2 separate regions of the Homo sapiens genome follow, and region 2 is linked to region 1. Evidence: fine-mapped expression QTL. Tissue or cell type: whole blood. Region 1 holds a variant in brackets; the other region holds the start of a gene. All regions are shown on one strand. Distances are from middle to middle.

Region 1 (2,685 bases):
ACTAACAGTTAAATTTACAGGGGGATTTGGAGGGTTCTGTGGGTAAATTTAAAGTTGAACTAAGATTCTGTCTTGGACAACCAGCTATCACCAGACTCGGTAGGTTTGTCGCCTCTACCTACGAATCTTCCCACTATTTTGCTACATAGACGGGTGTGCTCTTTTAGCTGTTCTTAGGTAGCTCGTCTGGTTTCGGGGGTCTTAGCTTTGGTTCTCTTTGCAAAGTTATTTCTAGTTAATTCATTATGCAGAAGGTACAGGGATTAGTCCTTGCTGTATTATGCTTGGTTGCAATTTTTCATCTTTCCCTTGCGGTACTATATCTATTGCGCCGATTTACAATTTCTATCGCCTATACTTTATTTGGGTAAATGATTTGGTTAAAGCTGTTCGGTAGTAAGGTGGAATGGGTTTGGGGCTAGGTTTGGCTCAGAGCGGTCAAGTTGAGTTGAAATCTCCTAAGTGTAAGTTGGGTGCTTTGTGTTAAGCTACACTCTGGTTCGTCCAAGTGCACTTTCCAGTACACTTACCATGTTACGACTTATCTCCTCTATATAAATGCGTAGGGGTTTTAGTTAAGTGTCCTTTGAAGTATACTTGAGGAGGGTGACGGGCGGTGTGTACGCGCTTCAGGGCCCTGTTCAACTAAGCACTCTACTCTTAGTTTACTGCTAAATCCACCTTCGACCCTTAAATTTCATCAGGGTTATCGTAGTTTTCTGAAGTAGAAAATGTAGCCCATTTCTTGCCACCTCATGGGCTACACCTTGACCTAACGTCTTTACGTGGGTACTTGCGCTTACTTTGCGGCCTTCGTCAGGGTTTGCTGAAGGTGGCGGTATATAGGCTGAGCAAGAGGTGGTGAGGTTGATCGGGGTTTATCGATTACAGAACAGGCTCCTCTAGAGGGATATGAAGCACCGCCAGGTCCTTTGAGTTTTAAGCTGTGGCTCGTAGTGTTCTGGCGAGCAGTTTTGTTAATTTAACTGTTGAAGTTTAGGGCTAAGCATAGTGGGGTATCTAATCCCAGTTTGGGTCTTAGTTATTCTGTGTTCAGATGCATTAAAGCCACTTTCGTAGTTTATTTTGTATCAACTGGAGTTTTTTACAACTCACATGAATTTTAGCTTTATTGAGGGGAATTGATCTAAAACACTCTTTATGCCGGTTTCTATTGACTTGGGTTAATCGTGTGACCGCGGTGGCTGGCACGAAATTGACCAACCCTGGGGTTAGTATGG[CTTAG/C]TTAAACTTTGGTTTATTGCTAAAGGTTTATCACTGCTGTCTCCCGTGGAGGTGTGGCTAGGCTAAGCGTTTTGAGCTGCGTTGCTGCGTGCTTGATACCTGTTCCTTTTGATCGTGGTGATTTAGAGGGTGACTCACTGGGGCGGGGATGCTTGCATGTGTAATCCTACTAAGAGCTAATAGAAAGGCTAGGACCAAACCTATTTGTTTATGGGGTGATATGAGCCCGTCGAAACATTTTCAGTGTATTGCTTTGGGGAAGTAAGCTACATAAACTGTATGGGGTGTCTTTGGGGTTTGGTTGGCTCGGGGTATGGGGCTAGCAGCGGTGTCCTGCAAGCTTTTCTGACATCTTTTCTATAGCACTTTGTGCTTTTATTACATTGCTATACTTAATTGGCCTTTTGGGGGACAAATCCCTACTTTCCTTTGTGTTTGCAACTGGAATAAGAGGCAATTAATTGTATACTGGCTTAGGTTTCTAAAGCAACAGTTTTTGAGGCAGTTATCCCTTCTTTATCCTTAAGGGCTCAAGTTCACTTTATGTGTTACTTCAAATTGTACCGCTGAAACCGATCGACATCATTGCTCTTTGCCTCGTGAAAACAAATCACAGCTCCTGGGTTGTGATTTTTCACGGCCTCTTGGATTAAACAAGAGCCGAAAGCACTTTTCTCTTGCTTTCTCTTTACTTCTGAGTGTTGGTGAAACAATATTCTTCATTTCCTGCGTTTGAGACATGACTGAAGGTGATATACCCAAATACTCTGCCTGAACTATGATCATTATAAAGAACAAGTGTAACTAGGGGAATACTAACCAGATAAACAGTTCCTTGGAAATTTTTGCAATTAGTAAGATAGAAGATGACAGAGAGTAAGACTATAAACAGCTGCAAGCGTGTCAAAACCTATCTCTGCAAAGGCTTTTATGTATTTTGACAGTAAAATGTGCATTTCTCCACAGTATGATGATACAGTCAATTTAACTACCAACTGCCACTCATTCTTATGTCCTTGCACTTTTCAGCACTAAGATTCTACGATGTTTCTCTAATTACATTCTTATATTTTGGAAATGATTTTACAAGGTAAACAAACTACAATAGGGTTGAGCATTTTATTTTTGCTGTCTGTTGGGGTAGGGGTCCACAACCCCTGGGCTGTGGACAGTACTGGTCTGCTGCCTGTTAGGAACCAGGCCGCACAGCAGGAGTTGAGCCGCGGGCGAGTGAGTATTATTGCCTGAGCTCCACCTCCTGTCAGATCAGCAGCGGTATTAGATTCTCAAGGAGCATGAACTCTACTGTGAACTGCGCATACGAGGGATCTAGGTTGCATGCACCTTATGAGAATCTAACTAATGCCTGATGATCTGAGGTGGAAAAATTTCATCCCGAAACTATTCCCACCCCAACCCTGGTCTGTGGAAAAATGGTCT
Region 2 (2,685 bases), 180 kb after region 1:
TTCCCTGCAAAAGACTCTGCTCAGACCAGATTTACTTCCCTGTGCCACCCCAGTGAGCAGCCTGAAGAGTGTTCAGCAGCTGCCGAGCTCTGGGAGGCTGGAGTGCTGGCCAGGGGTCCCAGACCCCGGGCTGCTGTTTACTCAAACTGCAGAGCCTCTATAGCCTTTACAACTGTTTCCTGGGCAGGAGGGAGCAAGACAGCTGGGCCTCTCTCTGGCCTCTGGCTTCCACTGGCTTTTCCTTTGGAAAAAGCCAGTTCAAATGGTGCTCACTCTAGGAATCGCTTCAACTCGGAGCCCTGGAGGTGAGCAGGGCCGGGCACGGGCCGGGCACATACACCCCCTCTAGGGAGCAGGGAAGGGCACAGGCCAGGGGAAGCTGGAGACAAAAGAGGAGACAGGGACAGAGATAAAAACAGGGACTGTGACAAGAACACAGGATGGGAAGGGCAGAGACAGAAATAGAGGCAGGCTTAAGGATCTAGACAGGTCATGCCAGCCCAGGTTCAAGGCAGAGGGGCGTAGGGGGACAGAGAGAGAGACACAGGAAGCACAGAGGGGAGAAAGCTCTGCTTAGCAGACTTGCCAAAGCTGAAGACCCCACTGTTGCCACAAAGGGGCCCACAGGAAAGCTAGGGGTTGCAATCGCCTGTCAGGACCCACATTTTCACCCTGAGCTGTGCACACTTTCCAACGGCAAGCAAAAGGAGCACAATCTAGTTAAGTTAGGACTGGCAAGATTCACTTCTGATTTAAAACTTAAGACAGCAACAATAAAGATACTCAGCTGAAATGCCACCCAACAAAGCCAGCTCCCCTGGAAAGTTAAAGTTTAGCACCCCCATCCCAGCACCCTGTACCTTTAAGGAAGAGAAGGTTCCCTCCGCTTCCCAGCCGAAGAGGCAGGTTATTCTAGGATATAGGGGAGGCTTACCTAAAACTGAGTTATTCTCCTTTCCTCCTCTGGCCAGCCTCTCTTCACTCTGGGGAGCTTTTACCATTTAAGGTCAATGTTACATCTGGCTCCGGAGCTCAGAGCCGAGAAGCCTCTGGCTGCAGAACCTCGGCCGCACGCCTCCTCTGAGAGGGGCTGGGACTTAGAGCCGAGAGCTCCTCTGGGAGCCCCACTCCGGCCTGGCTCGGGGGATAATGGCAGGGAAAGCCGACCAGCTGGCCTCAGGGCTCAGGGCAGGCTGGGCCTTTGGGGCAGTCGCTCACCCTGGGCCCCTCCGATGGGTATCCACACAGCAGATGGCAGTCCCCATGGCAACTCGTGCCACTGGACACTGTCCTGGCCGGACGGGAACAAAGGGACCCTGCAGATCTCCCCACCCGCCTGGAGCCTCCAGCAAGCATGTGAGCCTGGAGAAGACCCTGGGCCAGCGCCAAGAGAAACTGGGAATGGTTCCTGTCCTGGGGATTCGGGGGCAGGGGCTGCTCCCACTGCGTTAAACTCTTGGGATTGCCAGAGAGAATGGCCTGGGAGATTCAGCTACTCCCAGACTTGGCACCAGCCCCAGGGATGTCAACCTTGCTCCTCCATTAAACAGCCTGTGGTCTTAACATCGTGGAGCCTCAGTCTCCTCATCTCTAAAGTGGAAATAATAATGATAATGCCCGACTCACTAGGTAGTCAGGGGATTAAATGAGATGTTAGTCAAGTGTTTAACACACTGCCAGCATCTCATAAGAGCTAGATCAGTATGAATGAGCTTCCTGCCCCTGCCCAGGAAATCCATACCCTGTCCATACACACTCTTCACCTGCCTTGGGTATAGGGCCTACCCAAGGCCAGGATCATGGAGCTCCAAGCTGGGGGCAAGCCACATGGGGACTTCAGCCCCTTCTGTGGTTAGAGCAGCACAGAGAAACCCTAGGTAAAGTTGCTAGATAAATTACAGGACACCCATTTAAATTTGGATTTCAGATAAACACAGGACATACTTGTATTAAAGACTGTTATTTATCTGAAATTCAAATTTAATTAGTCATCCTCTATTTTTGTTTGATAAATCCGGGAACCCTAGCTTTTGGCCATCATTAGCCACCCAGAAAACATTCAGTAGTCATGGTAGAGAGCACTAGGGATTGGAGCTCCCAGGCCTATGGCCTCAAGCTCTCCTGGCAAACACAGTCCTTATGCTCAGCTCCTGGCCACAGATCAGTTGTGCAGCAGTGGCAGATGCTCTCCACTGAGCCTGGCCCACTGAGCCTCCATCCCAGCACCTTCCTCAGGCATGTGGTTCTCAGGAAGTCCTGTCTCTTCTGTGTGGTTGTTGTAAGAGAGATCACTAACAGGGGTGCAGCGCATGAAGTCCGCTACCCTCATCAATAATTGTTTTTTGTAAATGAAACCAGAGGAGGCTGTCTTGGGTACTAGCCATGCTTTCTCTCAAGTGTCCACACCTGTCCACATGGAGGTACAGGCTCCCCCCACAACCCCCGTCCCCCACAAAGCCACATGGTGGTAACTACTAGAATTGCAAGTATATGGTCTAGAAGGAACTGACCAAACTCTTCAGTGCTGTTTCTCCAACTTCAATGTGCATTAGAACCCCCAAGTGTGAAGCTCCTTGGGTTCCTCTTTCAGAAATTCTAATTCTATGGATCTGACATAGACCCAGAAATCTGCATTTTAGTGAAGGCCCTTGGGTGATTCTCATGTACTTGGTCCAAGGATCCCAC

What was found. PIP is the estimated chance that this variant, and not a neighbour inherited with it, causes the effect.
Region 2: it holds the start of IRAG1, and the variant in region 1 is fine-mapped to the expression of IRAG1 in whole blood (TOPMed, PIP above 0.99).

The regions. Positions count from the first base shown.
Region 1 is chr11:10,508,760-10,511,444 of GRCh38, forward strand. It overlaps the pseudogene MTRNR2L8. Among named protein-coding and RNA genes, the nearest start is that of MIR4485, 1.8 kb to the left of the region's middle. RefSeq lists a silencer at 363-657 and an enhancer at 2,220-2,685. The variant CTTAG/C (reference allele first, on the strand shown) is at 1,242.
Region 2 is chr11:10,692,602-10,695,286 of GRCh38, forward strand. It overlaps IRAG1 (inositol 1,4,5-triphosphate receptor associated 1), which reads right to left and starts at 1,154. Exons shown (of 21, transcript NM_130385.4): 1 at 935-1,154. The coding sequence starts at 1,001.